Linked DNA regions of Homo sapiens: region 2 is linked to region 1. The links come from fine-mapping of genetic effects on gene expression. A gene starts in region 1. The other region holds a variant in brackets. All regions are shown on one strand. Distances are between the middles of the regions. Region 1 holds the start of MCM5 (minichromosome maintenance complex component 5). Region 2 has its middle 41 kb from the start of MCM5.

Region 1 (4,389 bases):
AGCATCCCATGTGACTGCTGTGGCAAGAACATATTTGGGGACCACTGACCAACGCACAGGCTGTTCCCCAGCCTCGCAGTATCACAGGCCTGAGCCCCGTCTCCCTTATGTCCAGGAGCCAGTAAAATGGCCAGACTGCTACTGAAAGCCACTTGCTGTGAGGACACCCCACACCTCTACACAAGCAATTGCTCCTACCTAGACAGAAAGCTTTCTACACCTGCAACTCTGACCTTAGCTCAAAGGTCCCCTCAAACTTCAGCCCCCCGGAAAACTTCCCTAAGTCCTTTCACCTTCCTCTGTGGAGGAAATGACCACCGTGGAAGTTATCTGTTGGTCTTCACGACTCACTCCTCTGACTTAGGAGCTTCTCTAGGACAAGAAGCACGTCTTTTCATCTTTGTAGCGCAGTGCCTGGCACACAGGTGGGCAATATCAGCTGCTGCATGAGTAAGTGAAAGCAGGAATGGCTTTACCCATTTCTGGCCTGGTGAGGCCCAGAGACACTGACACCTGGAAGTCACTCAGCTAATAATGGGCCAGTGCTGAACCTGCAACCTCATGTTCTCTGCATTTTAACATTTCAGGGATAGAGGCCGGGCCTATGAGAATTCTCATGATGTCACAGGTCGTACAATCACCTAGAAGCAGGAGCCAGGTCCAGCTTCAGTGCTGCAGCCCAGCACCCAGAACAGTATCTGGCAGGCAGCAGGTGCTCAATCAATGAAGGTGCAAGACTGGTATAAATAAATGAATGAGCGAAGTGAAGTGAATCCTAACTGCCATCTTCACCTTTTACACCTACAGGGAACTTGAGTTTGTAAGGTCTCAGACATGACATGGAAGGATGATAGGAAGCAGATGAACAGGAACAAGATCTGGATAAAGAACTAAACGGTCCAAGTGGCGCTAGCTGGTTGCTGGTGGCCCACTCAACAGGTGACTCACCCAGAAGTTAACTCCAGGTACAGATAAAATACACAAAGCAGGCCGGGCACGGTGGCTCACGCCTGTAATCCCAGCACTTTGGGAGACTGAGGCGGGTGGATCACTTGAGGTCAGGAGTTCGAGAGCAGCCTGGCGAACATGGCGAAACCCCATCTCTACTAAAATTACAAAAAATTATCCGGGCGTGGTGATGGCGGGGGTAGTCCCACCTACTCGGGAGGCTGAGGCACAAGAATCGCTTGAACCCGGGAAGCGGAGGTTGCAGTGAGCCGAGATCGTGCCACTGCACTCCAGCCTGGCGACAGAGCGAGACTCCGTCTCAAAATAATAAACAAATACGTTAATAATAAAATAAAATAAAATAAAGTAAAACAAAATACACAAAGCCTTATACCAAGGCGTGAGGCTGCCGGGATGAGCCCTGTGACCCAGGACCGGCTCTTTCCCCCGTCTGGGCCCATCTGTGCCCTGACTGTCCAGGACTCTAGCAGGCTGGTAGAGGCGTGTGAGCGGCCACACTGGAACTCGAGCCCCCGGCCCCGCAGGAGCCGCACCTGTATTTGAAGGTGAAGCCCGTGCGGTCGGTGCCCACTCGGTACTGCCGCAGGAACTCCTTGAAGCGCCTCTGCAGCTGCGATTTGCGGGCCTGCCCCTCGTCGGCCTGGGCGTCGCCCCCGAAGCTGTCGCTGTAGAAAATGCCAGGATCGTCGAATCCCGACATGACTGCGCCTGGGGTGGGAACAAACGGCCAGAACAGGCTGGGGGCAGCGCCTGGCACCTCCTCCCCTCCGACGCCTGGGTCCCTGCCCTGAGTCCGGAGCAGGGGGACCCCCGGCCGCGCTCCCGGACTCCAACCCCAGTTCCCGAGAAACTCCTGTCCCACTCCAACTACACCCGGAAATCCAGATGCCTGCTGGCTCCCAGTCCCAGTCCCACTCCCACTAGCCTCACCTCTGGTTTTCCGCACTTCACAAACCAGGGGAGACAAGAACCTCCACGCTCAGCCGCCGAGTTTCGCGGGAAAAACAAGAGGCGGTGTTCGGACGCCGCAGCCGCTGCGCTCCCATTGGTTCGCCGGAGCCTCGCGGCCAGCGATTGGACCGTTCTGAGCCCTCCAGCCCCGCCGCCCGGACTGTCTGCCGAAGATGATTGGCTGCAAAGTGCATGACCTCGCCTCCTTCCGGGCTCCATTTTGTGTGCGGAACAATTTGGCGCGAAACTTCTGGCTGGGAAGGAAGTGGCGGCGCAGGACGGGGCGGACGCAAAGATGGCGGAGGGGCGGGCGCGCGGAGGACGCCTTTAGGTGGTTTCTTTTTTATTTTCTTGGTTTTTTTTTTTTTTTCCTGACGCATGGTCTCGTTGTGTTGCCGGGGATGGAGTGCAGTGGCTGGATCACGGCTTACTGTAGCCTCAACCTCTTGGGCTCAAGCAATCCTTCCGCCTCAGCCTCCCTTGTAGCGGGGACCACAGGTGTACGTGATTTTCTTAAAATATTTCATAAAGACGGAGTCTCACCATCTTGCCCAGGTCTCGAAACTCTACTCTCAAGCGACCCGCCTGCCTTGACGTCCCAAAGCACTGGGATTACTGGCGTGAGCTACCCGGCCAGGCCTGCGTGCTTTTCTTAAGCCTTCTTTTAAAGTCCTATGAAAAAAAATGACCCTTTTCATAGCCATAGGGAGAAAAAACTAGAAGTTCAGAAATGATTGGGTCCAGGTGCCCATTTTGCATTGGGAGACTGTGCCCTGTGGAGTATTCGCTTCCCGGTCGTGGGGCCCGTTCTCTGGGCCTGAGGCTCTGAGGAGCCCCTGTCCTCCAGCTGGTGGCAGGACAGGGCGATTACCGCGCGGCTCACCCGCGTCCCCGACCCGGGTTCTCGCACCCTAACACACTGCTTTTATTTGTTTATTTATTTGTTGAGAGGGAGTCTCACTCTGTCCCCCAGGATGGAGTGCAGTGGCTCAATCTCGGCTCACTGCAACTTCTGCCTCCCCGGTTCAAGCGATTCTCCTGCCTCAGCCTCCCAACTAGCTGGGACTACAGGCAGGCGCCACCATGCTCAGCTAATTTTTGTATTTTTAGTGGAGACAGGGTTTCACCATGTTGCCCACACTGGTCTCGAACTTCTGGCCTCAAGTGATCCACTCGCTTCGGCCTCCCAAAGTGCTGGAATTACAGGCGTGAGCCACCATGCCCAGACCGGCCTCATTCTGTTTAACAGCTGCTTAATTTTCTGTAGTATGGTGACAAAGACTCTCCTTGACCAAACTCTAGCCAGGTTCCTCTGGGCTCCCTTCACTTCTAAGCCTCAACCTTGATCTATAGGCACTGTGGCTCATGCCTGTAATCCTAGCACTTCAGGAGACCAAGATGAGAGGATCCCTTGAGTCCAGGAGTTGAGGCCAGCCTGGGCAACATAGCAAGATCCCGCTTCTCTAGAAATTTTTTTATAATTTTTTTTGTTTTGAGACAGAGTCTCACTCTGTTGCCCAGGCTGGAGTGCAGTGTCACGATCTCGGCTCACTGCAACTTCCACCTCCTGGGTTCAAGCAATTCTCCTGCCTCAGCTTCCCAAGTAGCTGGAATTACAGGTGTGTGCCACCACGCCTGGCTAATTTTTTGTATTTTTAGTAGAGACAGGGTTTCACCATGTTGGCCAGCCTTGAACTCCTGACCTCAGGTGATCCACCCGCCTGAGCCTTCCAAGATGCTGGGATTACAGGCATGAGCCACTGCGCCCGGCTTGAAATTTTTTTTTAATTAGCTGGGCATGGTGGAGCACACCTGTTGTCCTAGCTACTCAAGAGGCCAAGGTGGGAGGATGGCCTGAGCCCAGGAGTTTGAGACTGCAGTGAGTTTTGATTGCACCACTGCACTTCAGCCTGAGCGACAGAGCGAGACTCATCTCTAAAAAGAAAAAAAAGACAGTCCAGGCGCCGTGGCTCACACCTGTAATCCCAGCATTTTGGGAGGCTGAGGCGGGAGTTCAAGACCAGCCTGGCCAACATGGTGAAACCCTGTGTCTACTAAAAATACAAAACTTAGCCGGGCGTGGTGGCAGGCGCTTGTAATCCCAGCTACTTGGAAGCCTGAGGCAGGAGAATCGCTTGAACCTGGGAGGCGGAGGTTGCAGTGAGCCGAGATCGTGCCACTACACTCCAGTCTGGGCGACAAGAGTGAAACTTAATCTCAAAAAAAAAAAAAAAGAAAAGAAAAAAAGACTTAAACAAACACTAACAGTTTCTAACAGCTGCTAACATCTCTAAAATGACTCTAGCCAGCCCCCGCTAAGGTGCCTGCCTGAGAAAACTCAAGGCTGCTGGTAAATGTTTACCGTTTATTCCAGGCAACAACCGAGGATGTGACCTCTGTCTCCCAGGCTCTGTGGGAGGCAAAAATTCTAACTTTGATCATTGCCAACTGGCAGACACAGCTAGCCTC
Region 2 (4,389 bases), 41 kb before region 1:
TCCAATCTCCAATGTTTCCATGGCAAACCCAATGGGAAACAAACAGAGCCCACTGATGCCTCCTGTCAGGGGCAGAGTAGTGGCCTGGAAAGATGTTCATGGACAAATCCCTGAAACCTGTGAACACGGCGCCTTCCATGGCAAAGGTGCAGATGAGATCAAATTAAGATGGGGAGATTATTTGGGGATTATCAGGATGAGCCCAATGTAATCACAGTCATTAAAGAAGGAGGCAGGAGGCAGAGCCAGAGAAAGGAGAGATGGTGACAGGTCCAGAGGGTGGGAGGGAATCGGAGGGTGCTGGCTTTGAAGACGGGCTTAGAGGCCCCGAGCTAAGCAATGTGGCAGCCTCTGGAAGCTGGCAAAGGCGAGGAAACTGATTCTCCCCAGAGCTTCCAGGAAGAACCAGCCCTGCCTGCACTTTCATACTTTGACTGTAGCCCGGTGAGGCTGATTTTGAACTTCTGACCTCCAGAACCGTAAGAGAATAGAAACATAAGAGAATAAATGTGTGCTATTTTAAGCCACTGAGTTTGTGATGTTTTTTTTTTTTTCTTTTTTAGTAGCCACACTTCTCCATCCATGGATGTCGGCCCCCTAGGCCGAAGAGCAGAGAGAGAAGCGCAGACGGAGGAACCCACCACGCAAGCAGGCAGGCAGCAAGTGAGTGGTGTGTCTGGGGGTGGTGGGCCTTCCGCTGGCACTGGAGTATAATATACACGGGTGGCATGGGGTGTCAGGTGGGGCCAGGGGGTGAAGGACAGGACAGCCGGGAAACAACGCCAAGCAGGGGAGCGTGGACTTTCTCCTTGGGCAATGGGGAGCCACGGGAGTTTCCTGAGCAGGGAGTAGCTCGATCAGATTTAGATTCGACCAGATTGGTGAGGAGCTGAAAGGGAACAGGGGAGACTGGAAGGACAGAGGGAGGGACCCGTGGGATGCTGTTGCAACACGCAGGCTGGCCAATGGGAAGGGGCCTCTGAACCGGATCAAGAGGCCCGGCTTGTGGCTTTGGATCTCCTTTAGGCAGTTCTAGCCATGCCAACTCGTCCTGGCCTCACCTTCACACCCATGCCACATTCCACCTCTAGGCCTTTTGTGCTTTTTCCTTCCCTGGCCTGGGACACCCTTGCTGCTCCTCTCCATCGATCCTTCCCAGCCTTCAAGGTTCAGCTGAAGGGCACCTCTTCCAGGGAGCCTTCCCTGATAAGCCACTGAAGCCACAGGGCCTCAGGAATCACCTTGCCCAGTCCTCCTCTGCCCTTCCATCCCTCACCTCTGCCCATATACCCCCACTGCCAGGACACCCACTGCCTGGGTTCCAATCCCACTCACTCCACTTCCCAATATGTGACTTAGCCTGTGCCTGTTTCCACACCTGTAAAATAAGCACAAGGGAATCACCTACTCTATGGGGCTGTGTGAGGGATAATAGGTACTGACATAGAAGAGTACTCAGCACAGCGCCTGTAGAGGTGGTGGGGGGGCACCCAGAGAGCCTGCAAGCATCTGCTGTTCTGGTCCCCAAACCAAGAGCCCATGAGTGCGAGATTGTCCTCCCTGAGCTGAGCCCACCCTTAGCTCACTCCTCCCTCTGGCCCCAGCCCTGCCCCTAGGGCCACCAGCACACATCTAATCCATCTTCCATATAGCATCCTGTAACTCTGATGGAGACAGTGGTCATGTCCCCTGGGCTTTGCAGCCCAGTCCCTTCTCCAGCCTCTCCCAGAGGAAGCTTTCCAGACTCTTCTGCACAAACCCCTTTCCCCGCACATTCCTGCGCAGGGCCCACCTTGGACGCAAGGTCCCTTCACCATACGGTCACTGGGATCTTACTTTTTTTTTTTTTTTTTTTTGACAGAGTTTCACTCTTATTGCCCAGGCTGTAGTGCAATGGTGTGATCTCAGCTCACCGCAACCTCCGCCTCCCGGGTTCAAGCGATTCTCCTGCCTCAGACTCCCGAGTAGCTGGGACTACAGGCATGCGCCACCACACCCGGCTAATTTTGTTTTTTTAGTAAAGACGGGGTTTCTCCATGTTGGTCAGGTTGGTCTTGAACTCCTGACCTCAGGTGATTGGCCCTCCTTGGCCTCACAAAGTGCTGGGATTACAAGTGCGAGCCACCACACCCAGGCAGGATCTTACTTTTTACTGGACTCTGGGGACACTGAGGCAAAGAAGA[T/C]GCATGCCTGCCTCCAGACCAGCCCCTGCCTTCCTCGGATCCTCTGGAAGCACAAGTTCCACTCTGGCCAACTGGGCCAGGATTAGGGTCAAATGGAGTTTGCATTGCTGCAGTAGAATGCTATACTGTTCTTCCTTATATCCTGTCCTTGAATGGGTTTTCTGGCCTGAATTTATGGCCCCAAGATGACTGTAAGGACATGGAAGGCAGGGTCCGTACCTCCTCCCCTCTCAACCCCTGTAGCACCTGGCATACCTAAGATATTCCAGGCAGTTCAGGGGTCACATACTCCCTAGAACCCCAGAGCCTCAAGGGGCTTCAGGGATCAGCCAGTTCAATGCTCCCATTTCAGAGATGGGTGACCTGAGGTCCAGAGAAATAACGTGGCTGGCCCAAGGCCATTTCCAACATCACTTCCTAAGGGACCTTCTGCATGCTTCCACAGCCCCAGGGGGGCCTACTGATCTGACGCAGGCTTCTTTCTCTAAGCCAAGTCCCTGTTTCTCATTATTTTTTTCACTAACATCCTTTATCACAGGGCCTACTCAAGGGTTCTTTTAAAGTCTAAGTATCATGAGATGATGTTAGGGGAAGTGCTAGGACCCCAGACTCCGCCTACAATTGATTACAAGTGTGTAAAAATGATGTCTCCATGTGAATTTGGACGAGAGAAATGGAAAATTGACAGTAGGCAACTTAAGGAAACTGCTGGGATTCTAGATGATTTTTTTTATTTCTTCCTTTCTTTTCAGGTTCACTTTCACGTTCTTCTCAGGTTCATTTCTATGTTCTGCAATCAATGTATAAGGAAGGTGGGTGCAGCCAACACTGCGTGTGCCCACTCTGCTTTGGGCACCATGCCAGGCCTGCACACTATTTGGTTGCATCTCTACAACAGTCTTGCAAAGTATTAGCATTCCCACTTTTCAGATGGGGAAAATGGGGTTCAGAGATGTTTAGAAAAATTAAATGCCCAACTTCACAGAGTTAGTAAGTGATAGAGGAAGCATTAGAACATAAGACTTCCAATTCCAAGTTTAGTGTTCTTCCCTAAAAGACAGAGTGGGGGTGGAAGGAGTGTTCTTCCCTAAAAGGCAGGGAGGGAGGAAAGGAGGGAAGAAGATAACCTAAGTATGTTACATTAACTAGTTTGTCCCTGCTACACATTGTGTTCAGTATTTGTTGGATGGATGGATGGACATGTGGGTGGATGAATGGATGAATATGTGGGCGGGTGGATGGATGGATGAATATGTGGGTGAGTGGATGGATGGGTGAATGGATTAATATGTGGGTGGATGGATGAATGAATATGTGGGTGGGTGGGTGGGTGGGTGGATGTATGGATAGATGGATGAATATGTGGGTGAATGGATGGATGAATGAATATGTGGGTAGATGGATGGATGGGTGGGTGGTTGGATGGATGAATATGCAGGTAGATGGATGGATGGATGATTGGATGGATAAATATGTGGGTGGGTGGATGGATGGATGAATATTTGGATGGATGGATGAATGGATGGATGAATTTGTGGGTGGATGGGCGGGTGAGTGGATGGATGAATGGATGGATGGATGAATATGTGAGTGGATGGATGGATGGATATGTGGGTGGATGGGTGAATGGATGAATATGTGGATGGATGGATGGATGGATGGATGAATATGTGGGTGGGTGGACGGATGAATGGATGGATGAATATGTGGATGGATGGATGGATGGATGGATGAATATGTGGGTAGATGGATGGATGAATATGTGGGTGGGTGGATGCATGGATGGATGAATGGATGGATGGATGGATGAATATGTGAGTGGATGGATGGATATGTAGATGGATGGATGGATGGATGGATGGATGGATGGATATGTGGGTGGATGGGTGAATGGATGAATATGTGGATGGACGGATGGATGGATGGATGGATGGATGGATGGATGAATATGTGGGTGGGTAGATGGATGAATGGATGGGTGAATGGATGAATATGTGGATGGATGGATGGATGGATGGATGAATATGTGGGTGGGTGGATGGATGGATGGATGGGTGAATATGTGGATGGACGGATGGATGGATGGATGAATATGTGGGTGGATGGATGGATGAATATGTGGGTGGGTGGATGCATGGATGGATGGATGGATGGATGGATGGATGGATGAATATGTGAGTGGATGGATGGATGAATATGTAGATGG

What was found. PIP is the estimated chance that this variant, and not a neighbour inherited with it, causes the effect.
Region 2: its variant is fine-mapped to the expression of MCM5 in whole blood (TOPMed, PIP 0.98).

The regions. Positions count from the first base shown.
Region 1 is chr22:35,397,719-35,402,107 of GRCh38, reverse strand. MCM5 (minichromosome maintenance complex component 5) reads right to left here and starts at 1,968. Exons shown (of 17, transcript NM_006739.4): 1 at 1,900-1,968; 2 at 1,503-1,677. The coding sequence starts at 1,669. RefSeq lists enhancers at 2,204-2,363, 2,374-2,423.
Region 2 is chr22:35,438,523-35,442,911 of GRCh38, reverse strand. It overlaps a transcript of MCM5 not described here. Among named protein-coding and RNA genes, the nearest start is that of MCM5, 41 kb to the right of the region's middle. The variant T/C (reference allele first, on the strand shown) is at 2,184.